Linked DNA regions of Homo sapiens. The protein of the gene in region 4 purifies or fractionates together with the protein of the main gene of each other region. This does not show direct contact. Each region holds a gene or a part of one and is shown on either strand. Other genes may lie near its edges. The genes, in order: CCDC86, LANCL1, CTDSPL2 and FGD4.

Region 1 (5,891 bases), on a different chromosome or scaffold from region 4:
AGCCTCCCTGTCGGCCTGGTGTTCTGTGGGATCCCTCTGGGCACTGGTAATCCCAAGATCTGTGCAGCCCCGCCTCCAGGCCACATGGGGCTGGGCAGCTACCATTTCCCTTTTGCGGATGGGAGGGGTAACTTGCACCTCTGACCTATCACTTCCACTGCACCCCGTCTCATTCCTCCACCTGCCGTGGACTTGGGGTCAGAGACTGCTGTGTTTGAGCTCTGCAGCCCAGGGACCGAAAAGTTGGTGTCAATGAATTTTGCTTGGTGGATGAAATGTCAGTGGAAGAAGCAGATGAGAAACTCTTGAGATCTTGGTCCTGTGTTTTTTCTGCCACCAAAGGCCAGGGTCACTGAAGGCCTGGCCCACAGCAGGTGCTGAGCAAAGGGAACAGTGAGGTGCCCAGCTAGCTGCAGAGCCACCCTGTGTTGACACCTCGCCCCTGCTCCCTCCCATCCCTTCCCCCTTTACTCATAGCACTTCCCCCATTGGACACGTGGTGCATTTTGCTTGTTTATTATGTTTTCTCTCCATCAGAATGAAAGCTCCTCGAGGGCAGGGACTTTGGTCTATTGTCTGTATTTGCCGGTGCCTAGGATTGTGCCTGTATGCAACAGGCACTCAATAAATATTTTTGCTGTAGACTGGACAGGCATGAGTTAGATTCTCTGGGGCTTCTGCAGAGACTGGTTTGGGAAAGTGGGTGCTAGGGAAAAGCTCTGCTCCCTGCAACCTCCCCATTTTAATCTTTCAGTATTGAAAAGTGGAGAGGAACCGGATTCAGTCTGCTGGGGACAGAGGCAGTGGGGTGTGGAGGTGCTCAGAGCAGCCTTTGGGAAGGTGTGGGGGAAGCTGGATTCCCAACTGTCAGCCTCCAGGCCTGGGATGGACCTAGGATGCTGAGAAAGGGCATACACTGCTGAGGGAGTCACCTGCCAGTCACCAGCTCACTGAGGAACCAGAAGAATGTACAGTTCTTGGTTTGAAGGCACTTGGAGAAGGAGAGGAAGGAGGGATGGGAGCTGAATCTCTTCCCGCCCCCATCTCTGCCAGGTCCCAGGCCCCCTCTGGGCTTCTGTCCCACACAGACCTGCCTGGAAGCCTTCAAAGGCCGAGGAGCCCCGGTCGGGGTGGGGGTCCCTGTTCTGGAGCCATGGGTTTGGAGTGCCAGCTCCAGCAGAGGCATCTGAGCAGCGGCCTGAGGTGCTGTGTCTGACATGGTTGTTGGCCATGGAAGGCCTCGGGCCGTCCTGAGCTCAGATCTTGGCTGCCGGCTGCTGGGGCGGCTGCTTCTGCAGCAGGGCCAGGGTGTCCCGCTTCTCAATGGAGCGCAGCTGCTTCTTCTTTGCCCGCTTGAGCTTGGCGGGGTTTCGGATCTGGGGGTGGTATGAGGGGAGGACATTAGTGCAGCTGCAGCCTCGGTCCAAATTCCCAGGGGAGAGGAAGGCCGCCCCACAGGGGCCTGAGATCGTAGCATGAGAGTGGGGGTACATGAGGCAGGGGTCGAGGCCCTGGTTTGCACCCCCAAGTGGGGCAGAAGGGCAGAGGGGGAAAACGAGACACTCACCACTTGGACGACCTCTGCCTTCCGCTCATTCTCCAGGCGGCGTTTCAGGTTCTCAGCCCGGCGCTGTTTCTTCTCCTGGAACATGTGGGAGAAGGGGATTTGAGTCGGGGAGCAGAGGCAGCCCTGGTCTCTCAGGCCCCAGAAGAGTGCGAGCGGGCAGAATTCCCAGGAGGAAGGGGAAAGGCCCTCTCTGCCAGGCTCCAGGTTGGTGATGTGTGGGTGGAGGGCTAGCAATCCTGTGCCACGGTCTAGTGCCAGGGGCCTGCTGTGGTGGAAGCTCCTGATAGCATGTTGAGAGGTGGGTATGGGACAGGCAACTGAGGACAGGGGCTGAGACACTGGGGGTGCCCACCTGGAGATTCACGCACATGCAGACAGTGACCCCTCATGCCACCCTCATCAACTGCCAAGGGAGAAAGGGGTGCTGGCCCTTCCCCCATTCCCACCCTCTCCGACAGTCTCCCCCTCTTCCCCTGGAGTCCTGCTGCTGCAGAATGCCAGGCTAGGGGTGAGGGCTGGGTCCCTGAGATTTTCACAGGTGTGGGGCTGGGCAGGGGCTGCACTGCACAGAAAAGGCTCTGGAGCTATCTGGGCTGGGTTTCAATCTGGATCCTGTTATTTCCTAAACAGGAGACCTTAGCTAAGTCTGTGCCTCAGCTTCTTCATCTTTAAAGTGACAGTGACCACAGTATCTACCTCGTAAGATAGTTTTGGGAAATCAATGAGGGAATGCACGTGCAGGACTTGGAGCAGCCCCTAGCTCCTTGGGCACACTGAGACTCTAGATGGAGTCTGTCTTGGGAGGGGAAGCCCAGTGCTCTCTAGCCATGCTGACTGTGTCCCTCAGCAAGGCCAGGGTGGGGACGTCAGCTCCAAGGCTGCTGCATGGTTAGGAGTCTCTGCTGGCTTTGGTGACTTGGGGTAGCAGGGGTGGCCCAGGCCCCTGGGGAGGAAGGAGAAGTGAGCCTTGGCCTCCTGTGGTCAGGGCAGGCCCGGGCTGGGGGCTGGGCAGGAGCACCTCCGCAGTGGACGGTGAGAAGTGAGACGGCAGCTCTGTCTTGCCCAAGAGGGAGCCAGGGCCACACAGGAAAAGAGATAAGGCCTCAGCATATGGTGGCGGACACACTGTTCCTCAGATGTCAGCTGTAAGCTGAGCTGGGGTGACTTAGAGCAGGGGACAGATGACTGAGTGACTGGCCCACCCCTTTTCTCAGTGGCCAGCCTGGGACCACGGACTATGGATGAGTTGTCTGAATCCCGTTCGGCACTCCTCCTACACGCCTGGGTCATTAGAGGAGTGGAGGAGGAATCTCCCACTGACTGCCCTGCCCTGGGGGGCAGGAGCTGACCAATGCCACTCCGCTTTCTCTGCATGCTGCCTGCTGAGTGCCCTCTTCCCCCCGCTTAAAAGTCCCTGGCAGATGTGGGTGAGGCTGTGACCCTTTACAGGGGCTTCCTGGCTCTGGGATGGGTGACAGGGGACAGAAGTGGAGGAAAGGTGCGGGGGCCATCCACGTTGCTGGTGTGTGGGCTGCTTCTTGGAGAATGACAGCAGCCATACCGGGGACATGGAGTTCAAATCTGCAAGCCCTTCCCAACTGAGTACGTCCCAGCAAAGGGCCCTCGACCCCATCTCACTGACTGCCCTACCACCCAGGACTTCCTCCCGGGCTTCTCCCCAAGGCCCGCTTCTGGTCCTCCCCCTCCGTCCCTGTCCCTGAGGCTCTTTCAGCAGCCCAGGCTAAACTGTATGGTCCCCTGGGCCTCCCTGCCCTGTAGTCCCAGATTGCACTTCTGCTTCTGGCCAGGTGCCCTTCCTCCCTCCGGCCTTCAGATTCAAGAACGTTTTTTAACCAAGTCGGCCTCCCCCAGGCACCCGTGGAGGCCCTCGCCTCAGGTCTGTACCAGTAGACACTAGCTTAGTCCTCTGAGCCCCAGCCTCAGCCTGGCTGGCCCCTCACCTGGCGGCGCCTCTCCTTCTCCTCCTCCAGGTGACGGGCAAAGTCCTTGGCCAGCTTCCTCTCCTGTCGTTCCTTCATCTTCCGCTGCCACGATGTGCGCAGGGGCTTGTCCTGAAGCATCTGGGAGAATCTGAAAGGGGGAGAGTGGGTGCATACAGGGTCTGTGGGGCAAGCGCCACCCATGCCCTGTCTCCTCTCGGCCGGAGGCTCTGGACCTTCTTCCCCAGAGCCCAGGCAGAACCACCTCCTTGCTGGCCTGACAGGCGGCCTTCCAGGGCTGCAGAAACTTGGGGCGGGAGGGAACCCTGATCGTGCTGGCTGCCATTTCTCAAGCCTTGGCTACATGCCTCTGAGGTGGGTACTCCTATCCTCTCCACTTACAGAGGAGCAGGCCAAGGCGCGGAGAGGTTAAATAGCTGCCTAAAGATACCTTGTGGCAGTCAGGACTTGAATCCTGTCAGCGACTGCAGAGTCCAGGCTACGCGGCCCCTGCTGTAAAGTTCTGTTGCTTCCGCCAAGTGCATTTGGCCCGGGTGTGAATGCCTCTGGAGGCGGGGCGCTCACCCCCTAGGGAGGTGGCCCATTCCATTTCAGAACAGTGTGAGTGGTTAAAGTTCTGGGTAATGATTCAGGATCTTCCCCGCCAAGACCGGATGCAGTGGTCATGCTTGTAATCCCAGCACTTTGGGAGGCCAAGGTGGGCAGACCACGTGAGTCCAGGAGTTGGAGACCAGCCGGGCAAACATGGCAAAACCTACTAAGCCTACTAAAACCTACTAAAGTTTCTACTAAAAATACAAAAATTAGCTGGGTGTGATGGTGTATGCCTATAGTCCCAGCTACTTGGGAGGCTGAGGTACAACAATTGCTTGAACCTGGGAGGTGGAGGTTGCAGTGAGCCGAGATCGCGCCACTGCACTCCAGCCTGGGTGACAGAGCAAGACTCTGTCTCAAAAAAAAAAAAGAAAAAAGAAAAAAGAAAAAGAATCTCTTCCCCCAGTTGGAGATGAAGTGGGCATCAGGGCTCTCAGGGAAATCTGAAAAGAGCAACGATGATTTTAGAGTTACAGGAGAACTGAGCTCATCTCTGTAAAAATGCATACTACAAGGATTTATGAATGGGATGATATGTCTAGGATGTACTTTAAAATATTTCAGGGAAAAAAAAATGCCAAAGATCAGCCGGGCGCAGTGGCTCACGCCTGTAATCCCAGCACTTTGGGAGGCTGAGGTGGGCCGATCACCTAAGGTCGGGAGTTCGAGACCAGCTTGACCAACATGGAGAAACCCTGTCTCTACTAAAAATACAAAATTAGCTGGGTGTGGTGGCACACACCTGTAATCCCAGCTACTTGGGAGGCTGAGGCAGGAGAATCGCTTGAACCCAGGAGGCGGAGGTTGCGGTGAGCCGAGATTGCTCCATTGCACTCTGGCCTGGGCAACAAGAATGAAACTCCGTCTCAAAACAAAAAAAAAGAAAAAAAGAAAAAAAAGCCAAGTATCAAAGATGAAGCTACACTAGTAAAATGCTGAGCTGTGTTGATGCTGATAATGGGGACTTGAGAGCTTTGCTCTTTCTTTGTATGCTTGAAAATTTCCATTCAAAAAAAGTAAAAACAAAATGCAAAGAAGTCTCTCGGTGGCCTCCACATGCTGAAATTAGGTCTTTCTCTTTTAAAGATTCAAGGCCCATTTTGGTGTCCCTTGGCCCTGCCGACTTCTGGCCCCAGCTCCCTGATTTCCTTCTCCCCTTCCCAAGGCCTTGCCACTGAAGGCCTGGCCTCCTAAGCACTAAGAATGGGGTGCCACATGGACTTCCCCCATAACTGTAAAGCTGGGCTTCCCAAGCTGGGGTACGAGAACCCTGAAGGGACAAGGTGTTGGGAGCCTAGAGACACACAGAACCACAAGACACAGTGCTGCATCTGTGTAGAGCAGGGCTGTCAAACAGAACGTTCTGTGATGGTGGAAACATTCCACATTGACACTGTCCAATAAGGTAGCCACTAGTCATGGGTGGCTGCTGAGCGCTAGAAATGTGGTTGGTGTTGATAGAGAAACTGAATCTTAAATTTTATTTAATTTTAATTAATTTAAATGTACATAGCCACATGTGGCTGGCGGCTAAGGTACTGAGGCAGGGCAGTTCCAGACCATTGGTTCTACCTGGGTATTGAGGAAACTCAGGCCTGGGTTCCAAGTCCAACCTGGGTGACCTGGAGCAAGGTAGCCTCTCTAAGTCTCAGCATCCTGTCCAGTGGAGATGAGAATCATTCCTAACCCAAAGGGTGGTGGGAGATTTAATCGACACACACACGTAATAGGTGCTCCATAAATGCTACTCCTCAGAGAAGGCAGACAGC
Region 2 (6,156 bases), on a different chromosome or scaffold from region 4:
CATCAAAGATGAAAAGAGAGCCACATGACTCAGGATTAAAGACTGACAACTCAGGCCACACCGCCGTCCATGGTATCTATGGAAATAGGATAATGTTAACTTTTTACATGATGAAAAGTTAACTATTTGCAATTTCTAAATTACTATAGAAACAGAAACATGTGACAGGATAAATGAACACTGCTTGATGACCTTTGACAACCTTTGAAGGTTTTATTACCTAGTCCCTGTATAGAGATAAGAGATGATGGTATTGAGTTTTCTAGGAACCAACTTCTGGGAAAGATTTTTAAAGAAGAAAAATATCTGAGAGAAAAATACAAACTAGAACTGAAACAATGATGCCACTTCCTTTTAAAACTAAGAAGCCTAGTATAAAAGTTTCTTTAGTTACTACCATGTTGTTAGGGGATTGTCTCAGCGTTGTAGGCTTTGCCTGAATTTAAAATCCCATCAAAACTTTTTTGCTCTTAAGCATAAATACAACAAATAGCATACATATAAAATTGTGCCAGTTTAGTAAGTTTTGAAAAGCTTAAAAAAAAACCAAACTCTAATTGTGTTTGTGTGGATGAATTTGCTAACTGATGACAGTAGCTAACCCATTTATGCTGGGGGTTGCAATTTTTTGTGTGAAAAATCAGACCTTGGCAATGACTTTGAGCAGTAGGATGTAAATGACTCCCACAAGCTTAGCATTCCAATAATGGAACACTAGGCATAAATGGGTTAACAAGAATCTTATTTGAAATGTTCTTCTCCCTGCCTTGAAATCTTCCTGGGGTTAAGCATTGCTATCACGATGCTTGGAGAACTGTGATCAAGTCTTCTCTGGCTCAGAGAAACTGTTATTTTTCCCTTGCTTAGTAACGCAGCTAAAAGCATAGGCACAGTAGAGTAAGACATTTAACTAAACCAAATGAGCTTTATTCTTTCAAGCTGAACACCCCAGGCAAAGGCAAATTAGCTTTGCTGTGCACTACTTTTACTTCTTACTGTAAGTGCTGATATCGCTGATTGAAAACTTTCACAAGAAAGGCAGAGCATGCACATGCTTACCAGCAGCACTTCAGCAATCTGAGAGGCACAAGGTAGTGCCAACTTACACAAGTGACAGAAGGAGGAAGCTGATCCTGGAAACTGAGCAGTGGGCTGCTTTTTAAATCCTACTGCCAGTGGCCTTTAAAAGGTCAGTTTCCAATAATATTAGCTCTTTTGGTGCTAAACAGGAGATAATAGGAGACTGCTACCTGCAGGAACCAGTACACACTCAGTGGGGATTTGGTTTGAAGTTCCAATAAAAATAGCATGTTTTTGTGACCAAGAGAGCTGTGAAATAGGCACATTTAAAATACTTAGACCCTGTTATTTTAAAGCTACAATTTTTTTTTGCAAAATCAGTTGCAAAGAGACAAAACAAGCCAGGCAAAGGCAGTAATAGAAAGAGTAGAAGCTGATGAGTCAAAACACTTGAACAGAATTTGAAGCACCAGAGAGTCTTTATCTACTACGGAAAACCTGATTCTGTGGTCTCAGAAACTGATGAATTGTTAAGTCTAGGATACGCAAAGATGCATTTGTTCTAAGCATGAACTCTGGATAATACCTCCTCAATAAAAAGCATTTCTATTAAATGCTTAGTTTAGTGTTTTTGTTCAAGTTATTGGTTAGATAGTATTCCCTTTCTCATCTCCCCTTTTTAAACAGAAGTAGAATACTGTACAATTTAGTGAAAAGACCAAAGTTCAGATAAATTGATAGGAAGGAAAATATTTTATGGCTTATACCAAAGAGTCAGCACTAATGCATAGTCACTGTAAAAACCCAAGTTAAAGTTTAGAAAGTCAGTCAGAGTGGACTGAAATCCTAGGTTAAAGCATATTCATACATAGAAAATTGGCTTCCTGATCTTATTTGAATACTGAAAAACACACATATTTAAATAAAGAGTTCCAAAAAACTCAGATTATTTTAGAGAAAACACAGACTGTTATTGTTAGCTTATCTTAAACTAACCTTCAACTCAGAATTTTCACAATGATCATCATGTTTTATAAGTTTTTGATTAAAAATGTTGGCTTCTGAAGGCTGTATGCCTTACCGACAAAAACAGGCCAATCTGAAAGTATGTTTACCTCTAGTCCAAATAGGCATCAAGAATTTAAAAAATGATATTTAGGTACCAAGTCCAGATTGTAACTCTTGGAATTTTTCTCCTGGAAGCATTTAGTTATATTTCTGTCCCCTTTCAAAATGAACCACCTAGAGAAAAGCAAGTCAGAAAATTGTCTGCCCTCCAGTTGGAGGAAAAATATTAAAGAGAAGTGAAGTGTAATACCCAATAATAGTCACATATTTATCTTTATCTGTATTGAGTTTCTTTTAAACATTTTTAGAACAGTAACAGATGGTTATATTCATAAACTTAAATAAGATTTCCTCCAAGTTCTGGAATATATGTATACAATCTCAAAACACTGTACATATCACTCACTCTCCCTTTAGGAAGAAATGGAAATTAAAGTTAAAAGACTTCCTTGGATACTTCTAAGTAAAAGTAAATGATAATGGAAGGGAACTGAATGAAAGATAAATTCTGAAAAAAGCTAACAAAATCAAGTCCACAGTTTGACTCTTTGTTTCCTTGGAAAGCAACGGAAGCACTTAGCTTGGGTTTGAATATACAGAAAGGGTCATGCAGTGAGTTGCAGGTGGCATGCTATCCTTTCAGAGTTCAAATGCAGGGAACCTGGCTTTTGTGGGGACTAGCAGGTCAGCCAGGAAATATATTGTTCCAGCCATTCCTGAAGAAAGAGAAAGAGGCAAAAGTTATTATACCAAATGACTCCATTTCATAGGATGGTTCTTTTTCCCCCATATCTTTATTGACAAAAAAAGTCACAGCATTTCAGTCTATTCAAACACACAAACATCAACAAAGGGTGCCCACCAGTGATGGCCTCGTCCCTAAGGTCTGGATCAAGGCCGCACTGGAGGGTGGGGGTGTCCTCTTGGCCCTCCTCCTTCGGCATCCTATGGCTTTTTCCTCACCTCACTGACACCCCCCGAGAGCAGTTACAACTCTGCAAAAACGAAGGATGGCTCCATTTTTTAACATTAACAACATTACAATATTAACGGCAATGATTTAAATGAAGTGTGAATCTATCTACGTTTACATACACTGCAGTTCAACATTAGAAGAGATCACTAGTGAGGTGTTCAGCCTTATATCCCGGTGGAAGACTGGAGAAAGAATGGAGCCAGACAAGTTCAAGTCACAGCCCTGCCATTTACCAAACATAAGCTCCTGAGCCTCAGTCTCCTCGGCTATGACATGAAGGTAGTAGTGCCTGTATGTTTTTGCTGAATGATTTATGAGGGCGTCTGCAAAATGCCCAACATGTGCCTGGCTCCATAAAAGGGAGTCACCTGATGACTACCAGTATTGGGACTGTGGTATTACATGTGCTAATTGATTTTTAATATCGATTTAGCATATTAGGAAATAAAAAAGTAGTTTAAGAATAATTATAAAATTTTTTGCTAAAACTTAAATACATTAATTACCAAGCAGAGAAGTAGATGCTGATATTATAGGGCAAATAAATAAAGTGTACAAAATACCTTCAAAGAGAGAGAAAGGGGTGTCTGGTGTTCTGCATCCATGTTCTCCATACTCTAAGCACCATTCAGCAAACTGAAAATGAGACCAAGTTAAATTAGTATAGTGATTTCTTCCAGAGACAACCCCAAAAGTTAAGAGGTTGTCTATACAAATTACTCTGAAAAATCAAACACTACCTTCACATCAGAGAAAGGAGATTAATGCAGAGAAAAGGATGGTTTGAAAGAGTACACAGCATGGGAGGAATTTAATGAGCTGTCTGAGTCACGTATCTACAAGGTTATTCAAGAAGAAAGGCACAAAATCACCCTACATCTTTATTTTTTTCTCCCATTAATGCTGTTGAGTAGAATTATGTCCCTTTAAAGGAATGCTAATTTAATTGAAAGGCTTTTCAAGGTTTTCCTTAAATAACTGTATTTGTTATCCAAGACCTATGGTTTTAGGGATAAATGAATTAAATCAGATGAACTAGAACTCTTTCTACAACCTCCTGGGAGACCTGCTTTTTTTTTTTTTTTTTTTTTTTTTGAGATGGAGTTTCACTCTTGTCACCCAGGCTGGAGTACAATGGTGTGATCTTGGCTCACTGCAACCTCTGCCTCCCGGGTTCAAGTGATTCTTGTGCCTCAGCCTCCAAAGTAGCTGGGATTATAGGCGCCTGCCACCACACCTGGCTAATTTTTTGTCATTTTAGTAGACCATGTTAGCCAGGCTGGTCTCGAACTCCTGACCTCAGGTGATCCGCCTGCCTCAGCCTCCCAAAGTGCTGAGATTTACAGGTGTGAGCCACCGAGCTGCTTTCTATTTGGTGGTTCTGACTCCTACCTTACAGGCCCTATACAGGTACTTCATGTCCTGTGTGAGGTTGTAGAGTGTCAGGAAGGCATAGGCATTCCCTGCAGAACCGTGGCACAGCCCATATCCCTTCTTCAGCAACCCATATTGCCAGATCACATCAGCACACTGATAGGCATCACAGAGATACTTTTCCTCTCTGAATACCTGCAGAGGCAAAGGACACATTTTATTATACGGGATATAAAAGAAAGTTCCATTGATATTCCTTCCTGATAGATAAGAAGGAAAGAGGGAGATGGCTTGGCAAGAAAGGGTAAAGGATTTAGTGACAGAGGGATGTGTTATGTTGCTAGTGACAATTACTAAAATCGACTAGTTTGGCTTTAAAAAAAACTGTGCATGACTTTGGCATGTACAGTCTAAGTTTTCTGCACATGTGTGTATGTTTATGTGGGTGTTACTGAGGAAGCAGCATTATTTAACTTGCAACTTGCTCTTATCATGAGTGACTTTCCAAAGAACACATGCTATCTTCTTTGTAACTCTGATGCCCTCTTCACTATTAGGAAGTTTCTTTACACACTGGAGAAGAACAACTGTTCTTTATTAAATATGCAGTCAGAAAAATAGAGATAGACCTTTACAATCTTTTACTGCCTCCTATATCTTCATCAAAGACTTAGGAAATATTCTGAGTAGATATTTTTAATATCTCATTGCAACCTAAGTGTTCTTAAAAGTAGGATAAGGCAGTTTAAAAAGTTTTTCTATTATTAACATATCTAATTCTCTGAAATGTAGAATATGATACACTAAAAGCTTATTTATGAGATGCCAGCGCCCAGCGATAGTCTGCAGAGTTGTAATTTGTTGATTTGGCACCAATGGTCATAGATATCTTTTTTTTTCTCAACTAAAAATCTGCGTTGATTGCAGTTCTGTGAAGGCATGCTTTCTATTAGTGTTATTTATGCACTACAATGGAATCATACAATATTTGTCCTTTTATATCTATTTATTTCACTTAGCATGTTTTCAAGGTTCATCCATGTTGTAATATGTATCAGAAAGTCATTCTTTTAATAGCAGAATAATAATCCATTGCATTGTGATATGTTCCATTGTATATATGACATTTTATCAATTCATCTGTTGATGAATACTTGGATTATTTTCACCTGTGGCAATTATAAATAATGCCGTTATGAATGCTTGGTTTTGGTTCTTTCGAGTACACACCTAGGAGTGGAATTGCTAGATAATATGCTGGATCATAAACAATATCTCATTGCAACCTAAGTGTTGTTAAAAGTAGGATATGAAACAATGGCTGCTATGGTACAGATAGATGGTGAGAATGAATTATAATTCATTTAGTAAAGTGATCTTAGGTCCCACAAGAGATTTATTTATTGTTCCTTTATGGATTAGGATAAAACTAATTTTAAATTATAAATTTTTGGTTATTTAAAAAAATTTATTTCAAAAATACACACAGTACCTTATAGGCCTGGATGAGCATGTAGATTACCCCAGGGGCGCCATGGCACCAATGGACAAGCAGATCTCGATTATCACCTATACATGGAGGGTAATTGCCAGAAGGGAATTTCAGCTGGCAGACGTAGTCTACACTGGGCTTGACCAAACTATGTAACTTCCCTTGGCTCACTTGAAGGCTGGGCTAAAAATGAGAAGGAAATTATTAGTTCTGCTGAAGCAAATAA
Region 3 (6,156 bases), on a different chromosome or scaffold from region 4:
TAAACTCTGTCAATACCTTGTTGCATAGCAGAGAAACTCCTCAAAGTCAAAAAGAAGGAGAATAGCATTAAGGAAAAGCAGAGACAGCTATAAAGAATAACACTTTAGAGCAACAGTCCCCAACCTCTTGGCAGCAAGGACCAGTTTTGTGGAAGACAGTTTTTCCACTGACAGTGATGGGAATGGTTTCAGGATGAAACTGTTCCATCTCAGATCATCAGACATTAGTTAGATTCTCATAAGGATCGCACAACCTAGATCCCTTGCATGTAAAGTTCACAGTAGGGTTCGTGTTCCTAAAAGAATCTAATGCAGCAGCTTATCTGCAGATAAGGTAGTAGAGGCAGAGCTCAGGCGTTAATGCTTGTTCACCTCCTGCTCTGCGGCCCAGTTCCTAATAGGCTGCGGACTGGTACCAGTGGGTATGGGGTTAGGGACCCCTGCTTTAGAGTATGGAGTACTGTTTTAACGAATGCTATCTTAAACACAGCAGCAATTTCTCCCCTTGTCTCTGCCCAGTGCAGCAATATATCTTTATTGTTAGAAAAAACAAACCAGGAGGGAGAAAAAGACTGAGACAAGACAAGGGGGACAAAATAGAGAAAGAAACAAGTTAAAAGAACCATAGCAAAGAAGGAAATAAGTGTTGTAGACATCAAAAGTTGAGGAGAATCAAAGGATGATTAATTAGAACAGTTGATTGATTTTACTTTTATATTCTTAAAAGATCTGTGGAACATTTTGATTTACAGGAAACTTAAAATTATTTTCCCTAGCCACTCTGAGATGGCGTCTCAGTGTCCATAAGTAATTTTTGACACTGCTATATATAGCCTTTTGCTTCAGTAGAGTTATGTTGCCTCTATTCATTTCGCTGTCATTCATTAGATAGAAGCAGATGTGAGGGAAGGTTTTATGAATTAGAACCGTCCTAGAATGTAAACAAAAATAAAATTATTTGTGTTTTAGTTGGTGGGAACTAGTTTGCTTGTTTACAAAGAATTTTCTTCATTTTGTGTTATACTGTGTTGATTTGAAGCCTTTCAGTCTATAGGTGTAAATCTACTTTGAAAAAACTCAGTAAATATTAGCATTATAAACACATTGATACATAAAGAGCATTTGACTTACGAGTAATTTACCTCAATGTTTCTTTAATAAGCTTTCCTGAACATTAACATTAATTAGCTTTCGTGAAGTATTTTGAGGGAAAAAGAGTTACTTCTATAATGAATGATTTATAACACACTTCTGAAATTCAGTGTTTTCTAGATCATGACTTTTTTCTTGTTTCTTTTTTAGAAGCTGGTAGTTATGAAATGACAAATCAACATGTAAAACAAAATGGAAAATTAGAAGATAATCCTTCCTCTGGCAGTCCTCCAAGGACTACTTTGTTGGGGACCATATTTTCACCTGTCTTCAACTTTTTTTCACCAGCAAATAAAAATGGTAAGTATAAACTGTTAACTGTGATTTGGATTTTTTTTAAAAAAATGCATAGTTTGGGTTTTTTTTTTTTTTTTTTCTTGAGACGAAGTCTCTCTTTGTTGCCCAGGCTGGAGTGCAGTGACGCGATCTCCCCGCTCACTGCAGCCTCTGCCTCCCAGGTTCAAGCAATACTCCTGCCTCAGCCTTACAAGTAGGTGGGACTGTAGGTACCTGCCACCATGCCCGGCTAATATTTTTTGTATTTTTGGTTGAGACGGGGTTTCACCATGTTGACCAGGCTGGTCTCAAACTCTTGACCTTCAAGTGATCCGCCCACCTCGGATTCCCAAAGTGCTGGAATTACAGATGTGAGCAACTGTGCCCAGCAAAAAAATACATAGTTTTTAAAAAGATCTTTTTTATTTTATTAGCATATTTTGTCAATGTCTCGTGTATGTTTTCCACCTCATTAATAATATACAGCTCCTTGGGAGCTGGGTGTGGTGGCTGATGCCGGTAATCTGAACTCTTCGGGAAGCCAAGACAGGAGAATTGCTCAAGGGCAGGAGTTTGAGACTAGCCTGGGCAACATAGTGAGACCCTGTCTCTACAAAAAAATGTAAAAATTATTTGGGCGTGGTAGTGCACGCCTGTAGTCCTAGCTACTCCAGAGGCTGAGGTGGGAGGAATGCTTCAATCCAGCAGTTTGAACCCAGGAGTTTGAGGCTGCAGTGTGCTGTGATTGTACCACTGCACTCAAGCTTGGACAGCCAAGTAGGGGGTCCACGTAAAAAAAAATAAAAAGAATGGAATGGTCCTGTCTTCTGGGTGGCAGGGGTAGTGGCTCACAAAAGGCTTGAAAGAAAAGCCGAATCTGGAAAAGTGGCAAAAGCCATTCCAGGTAGAAGGAGCAGCATGCGTAGAGGCCTTGCAGCAGAAAACAGCATAGTGTATTTGAGAGCTGTTTGTAGTTTGTAATTGATGGAACATTGCATTTGAGAAGGGATAAGGTAGGAGAGCTATGAAGAAGTCATATAATAGAGCTAACATAGTAAGATGATGAACTTTATTCAAGTATGGGATAATTGAAAGTTTGTTTTGTTTTGTTTTTTTCCCCAAGGTGAAAGCAATTTTATTAAGAAAGTAAAGGAATAGGCCGGGCACCGTGGCTTATACCTGTAATCACAGCACTTTAGGAGGCCGAGGCAGGTGGATCATGAGGTCAGGAGTTCAAGACCAGCCTGACTAACATGGTGAAACCATGTCTCTACTAAAGAAAAATACAAAAGTTAGCTGGATGTGGTGGCATGTGCCTGTAATCCCAGCTACTCAAGGCAGGAGAATCACTTGAACCCAGGAGGCGGAGGCTGCAGTGAGCTGAGATCATGCCACTGCACTCCAGCCTGGGTGACAGAGCAAGACTCCGTCTCAAAAAAAAAAAAAAAAGAAAAAGGAATAAAGAATGGCTCCTCCTCCATAGGCAGAGCGGCCTGAAAGGTTTTAAACTGGTGAATAATACGATCAGATCTATGTTTTATAAAGATCACTTGGGCAGTAGTGTGTAGACTAGATTCTGAAGAGGCCATAGGCAGGTAGAACAATTAGTAGACTTGTAGTCGTTTGTGTGAGACTTGATGAGACCTTAATTGTATTAGAGAAGACAGGAAGGATCAGAGGATAGAAAATAGACACATTTTTGGTGCAGATTGGAGGTGAAAGAGAATAGAGATGAAGATGGCACAAGAGTAGAAGATTCAAGGAAAATAAAGTTCCTGGGAGATAGATAATTGAGTGTAATTTGGACCATGCTGAGTTTGAGATGCCATGAAATATTTAAATAAAAATATTCAGGCTGGGCGCGGTGGCTCAACGCCTGTAATCCGAGCACTTTGGGAGGCCGAGATGGGCGGATCACTTGAGGTCAGGAGTTCAAGACCAGCCTGACCAACATGGAGAAACCTATCTCTACTAAAAATACAAAAAAATTTAGCTGGGCATGGTGGCGCACACCCACCTGTAATCCCAGCTACTCAAGAGGCTGAGGCAGGAGAATTGCTTGAACCTGGGAGGCCGAGGTTGCAGTGAGCTGAGATCGCACCATTGCACTCCAGCCTGGGCAACAAGAGTGAAACTCCATCTCAAAAAACAAAACAAAACAAAAAAAACAAACCCCAGTAGTAATATTTTCCCCTCATGCTGAAGTAAAGAATCTCTGAAGGTGTGTATATCTCTGAAGGTGTGTACAGAAATAGATGTCTGGGGAAGAAGGAGTTGAAGTTTGATAGAGTTTTCTTGGAAGGAAGAGATGGTGTCATTAATGATAGTTCTAGTGGAAGGGACTTGGGAAGAATAGTGAAGGTTTACATTGATATTTTCTTTGTGTGTGTCTCTGTCTCTCTCTCCCCACCCCATACACACACAACCTCTCTCTCCACTCCCACATCTGTCTCTTCCCCCCTCCCCCCCACCTACCTCCTCCCCTCCCCCTGCCTTTCCCTGTCTCTGTGTCTCTGTTTTATTTGGATTATGACCAGTCTTTGTAATTGTATTTTTTGTTCCATAGCCTGCAACTAGGGTCTGAGAAGCCTGTTGGTTACGTTGATTCAAGAGGGATTTCTTGATGGATGACAGTGGAGGAATGAGGGATCAAGGATACTGAGGCTGCCAGTTTGACAGTGTATTTAAGTGATACACCACGAAGTCTAACTAGATGAGGAGGGTTGAGAAGAAGTGTTTGAGGGACGTGTTTGGAATTAAACAGACTGGCCTTTATCAAGTTTGAAGATCACATATAATGGGAGTATGAGATATATAATTTGAGGGTTAGGAGGTTGTGCTAAGTGGTTAATACAGTATTAGAATTTTAGGCTTCAGAGGTGAAGTTTCTCAGTGTTAATGTCCAGGTTATAGCTATGGTAGTAACTGATATAGAGCAGTATGAGTGAAGGTGGTTGGAGCTGAAGAGGGCAAGAACTTTGAGGATTAGTCATTGGATGAGTCATTGACATCATCTGTAATAACAACTAGAAAAAATACTGTGTTAAATAGAGCAGTAAACTAGTAGCTATGTATTAAACTTCTTTGCGATTGAGAGGATTCTGGCAGTAGATGGTAGGTGCCAGCAGTGAGGATAAGTGAAGAATTATATAGCCATGTGACATCAGTCTCAAAAGAGCAGACTTTTTTTGCACATTAGTGGAAAACCAGCGATTGGATAGTAGCAATGGAGATAAATGAATTCTGATTCAATTAGTATATTGGTATGGGAGAATAAAGAGCATTGAGGGAAGGGTATCAGAAAAACCTTTTAGGAAAGAGGTTAAACTTAAAGCAACAAGGGAGAAGGAATGTTCTGTAAGGAAGTTGAGAATATTGGAGGTTAATTTTTTTTGTTATTTTTGTTTAAAATGACATTTGGAAGATTCCAGAAGGAAATGGAAAGACCTGGGATTATTATTTTTTCTTTTTTAATTGAGACAGGGTCTTGCTCTGTCACCCAGGCTGGAGTGCAATAGTACGATCACCGTTCACTGCAGCCTTGACCTCCTTCTGGGCCCAAGCGATCCTCCCACTTCAGCCTCATGAGTAGCTGGGATCACAGATGTGCACCACCACACCCAGCTAGTTTTTATATTCTTTGTAGAGACAGCCATGTTGCCCAGGCTGGTTTTGAACTCCTGAGCTCAAGCAATCTGCTTGCCTCAGCCTCCCAAAGTGCTGGGATTACAGGCATGAGTCACCACACCTGGCCCAGTCTTTGTTATTGAGATGGAGTTTTGCTGAGAAATTATTTTTATATCTTTTAATTAAAAGGTTCTCATGATTAGGGGAACAGCTAATTTTTTGATACCTCTGGTTGAAAAATTACAATTGCACACATGACTAGGATGCAGAAACTTTGCTCACAAATGTTACTCTAGCCTGTAAGTCTTTATTCTTCATTGTTTGAAATAGCTAGCAAAGATTCTCTAAAAGCAATATACTCAGCTTTGTTCCTGCAGGAATGATCAGTCTAAATAAATATATTGTACGGTGATGCTGCATTTAGTTTTTCTAAATAGGTGCATTTTTAAATGATGATAGTACACTGAATCATGATTTCAGGAACGTCAGGATCAGATTCTCCAGGACAGGCTGTGGAAGCTGAAGAAATAGTAAAACAACTTGATATGGAACAGGTGGATGAGATCACTACCAGTACTACTACATCAACTAATGGAGCAGCTTACTCAAATCAAGCAGTTCAAGTGAGACCATCACTAAACAATGGTTTAGAAGAAGCAGAAGAAACAGTTAATCGTGATATCCCACCCCTTACAGGTGAAGAAAATTTCTTTTCTTATACATCTTCATGAGTAGTTGATAAAAAATAACAGTATTTCATATTTTTTCTTAAATGAGCACATTATATGCATAGGTTTTTCTTCCTGGAAGTTAAGAAAAAGTTAAAATTGGAAACAAAGCTTTGTCCCAAAAATCCAAAGTCATTTTGAAATTGAAATTTTTTAAAAGATTTTGACTAAGTATTAGTCATTTTACAGTTTAATTATTACTACTAATCTTATTGCTTGGAGAAATTTAATACAACTAACAAAATATATGCTCATGTTTATGAATATCCTTATTATTATTGCACAAGTCTTAGACCCTTATGTCTGAGGTCACTAGCTAGAGGCAGTCTCATACCTTCAGATTTGTTTGATTACATCAATGACATCCCCCCAA
Region 4 (6,156 bases):
CACCATGGCTGGTCCTGGAGGAGTTCAGCATTCTGATTTTTTCTTAGGTTCAGGATGATCATCCAAGGTGGCTGGATGCTCATTTGGACCACCTGGTGTCTCACCTGTGACAGCTAAAAGGATGACTTTCAGCCACTTCTGCTTCAGTTCCTCACTGTCTGCAGCAAAGCTGTGCACGGACTTAGACTGGGTCAGTTTGAAACTGTGTGGCAGGTCTGCGCTCCTTGGCATTTCATCCACCACATAGCCCAGAAGTGGAATGGTGGCCTGGGCTCTGACGTCCTAAAGAAAAGACATCAGACATTAAAAGCAGGTGATGTATTCGCTTGTTAAGTGTGTCCCTTGCTCCTACTAAACCTCTCTTCCTACCACTGTCCCAAACAGACTTAAACGGTGAGTTCTCCATGGGCACAGAGGGCAATCCCATTGCTTAGTACAGAGCCTGTACGTGAGGCCACTGATAATGTTAGCTGAATGAATGAGAGCTGACACCCAAATCAGCTAGGACTCAGAGACACTACACCCTCCTCTCTGTGAAAAGAGCCTTTCAACTCTTCATTCAGTGAAAAGGGGAAGAAAAATCGCCATCATACTGTATTAAACCAGCAAACAGTAATGAGAATCTCATTACTAAAGGCAGTTTTATCTGGTGATTCACTTATTCCATCAACTTATTTATGGACATAGAAAGCTTATAGGAAAAGCAATAAAGGAGAGTAAACTATATAGCCTGTCATTTTCAGTCTATTTTCAAAATAAAATAATTTTACCAGCCCTTAATTTATAGACTGAAATACAACAGGTATATGTAAAATTTTTATATTTCAGAGTAAATGCATAACTGGTTTAAGTGTTGTACATTTGATTCTTCAAGCACAACACAATCATAGGACCTGGTGCTGCTCTTGTTAAAAGCTAAACCTGCATATCATTGTTCCCATAGATTTATCTCAGATCCATATACGTGGGGTTCTCAAAAAAATTGCTACTGAATGATAATGCAAGACTGATTTTAAGTTCCCCTTCCTCTCAAACTCCTTTTTCAGATATCTATCCATTGAGCAAAAAGAAAAAATAAAATAAAAAACAAAATTGGCTGGGCGCAGTGGCTCACGCCTGTATTACCAGCACTTTGGGAGGCCGAGGTGGGCGGATCACCTGAGGTCAGGAGTTCAAGACCAGCCTGATCAACATGGTGAAACCCTGTCTCTACTAAAAATATAAAAATTAGCCAGGTGTGGTGGTGGGTACATGTAATCCCAGCTACTCGGGAGGCTGAGGCAGATGAATCACTTGAACCCAGGAGGTGGAGGTTGCAGTGAGCCAAGATTGCACCATTGCACTATAGCCTGGGTGACATGAGCAAAACTCTGTCACAAAGAAAACAACAACACAACAAACAAACAAACAAAAAACAAAATTAAAAAGTCTTTTCTTAATGTTTCCTATCATTAAAAAGGCTTGTTTCTCCCGTTTGCTTCCCCTTCTCCTCATGCTCATTCCTAATTCAACTCATCTTTTCTCAAACCCATTGAATGAGACAAGAAAGGGGACAGATGATCCACAAACTGAAGAAAATATAGGCTATAAAATGAATCAATCAGCTTAAACAACAAACTTGAACTTTACTCATTATTTTTCAATTTTAATGAAACAGTGAAACTGCCTGAACTCTTGTTCTACAGATTTTGAGTCCGCTGTCCACTCGCTTCCCCTTGCCCCCAAGGGCATCTGTCCCTTCAGACAGATGTGGTTTAGATACCTGGGGGGCACCATACATGTACAGCACAAGAGGGTCTTGCTTGGGGATCACACACCAAGCTTTCTGCCAAGGTTTTGACTTCTCCATATACTGAAGAAAGCTGCACACCACACTGTTTCCAGATACTTCTGCTGATTCAATCTAGAAAAATATAATGGAAAGACAGAATGAACACACAACAAATCAGATAGAGAAATATTCACAAAGTACAATGTGTTTATACAAAATGTTTCCCTGGACTATCCAAAAAAGATTCATTTGCAATTATTGTTTAAACATTTTAACATGGAAAATATTTAAGCCAATTTTAGCTCTTTACGTAACTAGACCTTGAATTTAAAGAGTTAAGTGTTTATTGATTGCTTACTATGTAGGCACTTTCCTTAGCTCAATACATGTCTTATTTCATTTAATCCTCACACCAACACTGAGAAGGTAGTATTTTCATTTTTTCTGAGGCTCAGAGTTTAAATAGCTTTCCCAAGATCACACATTGGCATGCTGGGATTTGAACCCAGAGAGTCTGAATCCAGAGTCTGAACTTCGATCCTCTGCCTCAGCCTCTCAAGTAGCTGGGAGAGAATTTTTAAATTTTTTGTAGAAACAGGGTCTCACTACATTGCCCACACTGGTCTTGAACTCCTGGCCTCAAGCAATCCTCCCACCTTGGCCTCCCAAAGTGCTGGGATTACAGGGGTGAGTCACTGTGCCCAGAACAGAGCCTGAACTTTTAACGACAATGCGATACCTACTTCAATTAAGAAAGAATATAAAAGCAAAAAGGCAAATAGTAACCAGCAATCTTTGTTTGAGTACACCTAATTAAAGATTTTTTCAGTGCAATCAATTTTTGTAGAGTGATATGGTTAGGCCTTGTGTCCCCACCCAAATCTCATCTTCAATTGTAATCCCCACGATCCCCATGTGTCGAGGGAGAGACCTGATAGGAGGTAACTGGATCATGGGGGCAGTGTCCCCCATGCTGTTCTCGTGATCGTGAGTTCTCATGAGATCTGATGGTTTTGTAAGTGTCTGACAGTTCTTCCTTCATACACTTGCTCACTCTCGCTTGCCACCATGTAAGATGTGCCTCTTCCCCTTCTGCCATGATTGTACGTTTTCTGAGGCCTCCCCAGCCATGCGGAACTGTGAGTCAATTAAGCCTTATTTATTATTTATTTATTTATTTATTTATTCATAGAGATGGAGTCTTGCTCTGTCACCCAGGCTGGAGTGCAATGGCACGATCTCAGCTCACTGCAAGCTCCACCTCCCAGGTTCTCACCATTCTCCTGCCTCAGCCTCCTGAGTAACTGGGACTACAGGCACTCACCACCACGCTTGGCTAATTTTTTGTACTTTTAGTAGAGATGGGGTTTAACTGTGTTAGCCAGGATGGTCTCGATCTCCTGACCTCGTGATCTGCCTGCCTTGGCCTCCCAAAGTGCTGGGATTACAGGCGTGAGCCACCATGCCCGGCCAAGCCTCCTTTATTTATAAATAACCCAGTCTTGGGTATGTCTTTATAGCAGTGTGAGTACAGACTAATACATAGAGCCATTTAATTTTTCTATTTTGCCTCCTAATATAAAAATTGTTGGCTAAAAGGCTGGGTGCGGTGGCTCACACGTGTAATCCCCGCACTTTGGGAGGCAGAGGCAGGTAGATCACTTGAGGCCAGGAGTTTGAGACAAGCCTGGCCAACACAGTGAAACCCTGCCTCTACTAAAAAAAAAAAAAAAAAAAAGAAGAAAAAAATTAGCCAGGTGTGGTGGCACATGCTTGTAATCCCAGCTACTCAGGAGGCTGAGACATAAGAATTGCTTGGACCGGGGAGGCAGAGATTGCAGTGAGCTGAGATCGCACCACTGCACTCCAGCCTGGGTGACAGAGCAAGACTCTGTCTAAAAAAAAAAAAAAAAGAAAAAAAATACTGAAAAAAGGAACAAAACCATTTAACTAAATGGTAGTTTTTATTATATGCCTTATGGAAACTAACTGGTTTGCTTCTATTTTCTGTCTCCAAAACCCTTCAGGTAGTGCTACTCAGTGTTATTCATGTTGGTCTCCAGGTCTGCAAATGGTTTATGTTACCAGTTTCTGGTAAGCACACAAAGTAGGAGTAAGTATTAAACTTTTATAACAATTTGAATTTGTGATGATAACCAAGTGCATTACAGTGTATTTTACAAAAACACTGATCTGTGATAGTTCAGGAAAAAAAAACTGATGCTTCAGCATAGACAATTTTTTTTTTTTTTTGAGACGGAGTTTAGCTCTTGTTGCCCAGGCTGGAGTGCAATGGTTCAATCTTGGCTCACTGACACCTCCGCCGCCCAGGTTCAAGCGATTATCCTGCCTCAGCCTCCCAAGTAGCTGGGATTACAGGCACACGCCACCAGGCCCGGCTAATTTTTGTATTTTTAGTAGAATGGGGTTTCACCATGTTCGTCAGGCTGGTCTCGAACTCCTGTCCTCGGGTGATCCACCCACCTCAGCCTTGGTGCTAGGATTATAGGCGTGAGCCACACCGCACCTGGCCACAGACAATTTTTAAAGCAGCACTGGTTAGCAGACGATAACTCACAAGCCAAATCCAGCCTACCAGTTGTTTTTGTATGGCCCATGAGCCAGGGTGTTTTTTTACGCGACCACTTACAATTAATTTGATGATAGGGAACGCTAACTTCAGATTCCAATTAAGTGAATGGTTATCCTCCCCCAAAGAATTCCATTCTTATTAGTAGATCCTTATTATTATTATTATTATTATTATTATTATTAGAGACAGAGTCTCGCCCTGTCACCCAGGCTGGAGTACAATGGCACGATCTCAGCTCACTGCAACCTCCATCTCCCAGGTTCAAGTGATTCTCCTGCCTCAGCCTCCCGAGTAGCTGGGATTACAGGGGCACACCACTACGCGGGCTAATTTTTGTACTTTTAGTAAAGACGGGGTTTCACCATGTTGACCAGGCTGGTCTCGAACTCCTGACCTTGTGATCCGCCCGCCTCAGCCTCCCAAAGTGCTGGGATTACAGGCATGAGCCACTGCGCCCAGCTGATCCATATTATTAAAAAGCCTAAATAAATATAATTTTAATTTTGTAAAAAAAAATTGTGGAAATTTGTTTTCTCTCTTTTTACAAATATGTATGTAATATCCTTGGTTTGGCCTCTTGGTCTGCAAAGACTAAAATATTTTCTCTCTGACTCTTTACAGGAAAGTGTGTTGATCACTGTTCTAGGGCATATAACATACTAGTTGGTACAAAATCAGTCTCGAATATGCATTTAAGTTAATGTGTCCATGTACATACTTGTCTCCTATGTATGGACTTCATACTATATATTTATTTCATTATATGAGTTGACCTAATAAGTAATTCATTAATTTTTCCTCAGTATAAGGTTCTCTAAAATACTAGCTAGGGATTTTTCAGAGATACGGCCTGAAGCTGACCCTAAAACCAAGTTCCCCGACTCATTATATTGTGCCAGTCTCATCAGTTGTCGCTATTAAGTCTTGAGGCTCTGTTCCTGATGTCCAATGAAGCATGTCTTTCCATCCTTACTGCCTGAGAAAGCCCCAGTTTGGTAGGCCATACGAGTAACATCTATACCCTGGAAGAATGATTTTAGTGTGTGGGGCTACACTTAGCCTCAAATGGACCTTGAAGTTTGTAACCCTTTATCAATGAACAGAAGTGACCTTTGTACACTTGTAAGTGTACAGGTATACTTGTACGCTTACACAATGTAAATGCTCAATAAATACTTACTGATTCTTTAGAGATTCTTTTTTTTTTGAGACAGAGTCTAGCTCTGTCACCAGGCTGGAGTGCAGTGGCGCAATCTTGGCTCACTGCAATCTCCGCCTCCCGGGTTCAAGCGATTCTCCTGCCTCAGCCTCCCAAGTAGCTCGGACTACAGGTGTGTGCCACCACACCCAGCTAATTTTTGTATTTTTAGCTGAGATGGGGTTTCACCATTTGGCCAGGATGGTCTTGATCTCTTGACCTCGTGATCCAACTGCCTCAACTTCCCAAAGTGCTGGGATTACAGGCATGAGCCACTGCACCCAGCCTCTTTAGAGATTCTTAATAAACCAAGTATGTCTATGATTTTAGATACATAGCATTTTGATCCTGAGCCTATTCTTCTATAGACTTTCCAGGCTACCTTGAACCTACTGCCACAAAGGCCTTATTATATAACCTGTCCCTTATATTGTTAATATCTCTAGATGTAAAACTCATTTCAGATAAGCTGCGTTATAGTTCTCAGGCTTGGGGTGGGGGGGTCTGAATTTTTTCCAGAACATTAGTCAAATTAACTTGGGAGACATTTCAATAATATTTAATGTAGTTATCAGATTACCATCACTGGCAATT

What was found.
Region 1: the proteins of FGD4 (region 4) and CCDC86 purify together in Homo sapiens (affinity purification with mass spectrometry, with the first as the bait; one large-scale study listed by BioGRID). This does not show direct contact.
Region 2: the proteins of FGD4 (region 4) and LANCL1 purify together in Homo sapiens (affinity purification with mass spectrometry; one large-scale study listed by BioGRID and IntAct). This does not show direct contact.
Region 3: the proteins of FGD4 (region 4) and CTDSPL2 purify together in Homo sapiens (affinity purification with mass spectrometry, with the first as the bait; one large-scale study listed by BioGRID). This does not show direct contact.

What each region holds. Positions count from the first base shown.
Region 1 is NC_000011.10:60,845,691-60,851,581, reverse strand, and holds the end of CCDC86 (coiled-coil domain-containing protein 86), read right to left. Parts: intron 3,659-5,891; coding exon 3,529-3,658; intron 1,643-3,528; coding exon 1,568-1,642; intron 1,377-1,567; coding exon 1,257-1,376; 3' UTR 501-1,256; downstream 1-500.
Region 2 is NC_000002.12:210,431,760-210,437,915, forward strand, and holds part of LANCL1 (glutathione S-transferase LANCL1), read right to left. Parts: intron 6,114-6,156; coding exon 5,931-6,113; intron 4,634-5,930; coding exon 4,457-4,633; intron 3,701-4,456; coding exon 3,628-3,700; intron 2,805-3,627; coding exon 2,728-2,804; 3' UTR 1-2,727. UniProt on the Homo sapiens protein: Functions as a glutathione transferase. Catalyzes conjugation of the glutathione (GSH) to artificial substrates 1-chloro-2,4-dinitrobenzene (CDNB) and p-nitrophenyl acetate.
Region 3 is NC_000015.10:44,485,249-44,491,404, forward strand, and holds part of CTDSPL2 (CTD small phosphatase-like protein 2), read left to right. Parts: intron 1-1,302; coding exon 1,303-1,452; intron 1,453-5,535; coding exon 5,536-5,751; intron 5,752-6,156. UniProt on the Homo sapiens protein: Probable phosphatase.
Region 4 is NC_000012.12:32,634,402-32,640,557, reverse strand, and holds part of FGD4 (FYVE, RhoGEF and PH domain-containing protein 4), read right to left. Parts: intron 1,904-6,156; coding exon 1,763-1,903; coding exon of another isoform or gene 1,646-1,762; exon of another isoform or gene 1,625-1,645; intron 283-1,624; coding exon 25-282; 3' UTR 1-24. UniProt on the Homo sapiens protein: Activates CDC42, a member of the Ras-like family of Rho- and Rac proteins, by exchanging bound GDP for free GTP. Plays a role in regulating the actin cytoskeleton and cell shape. Activates MAPK8.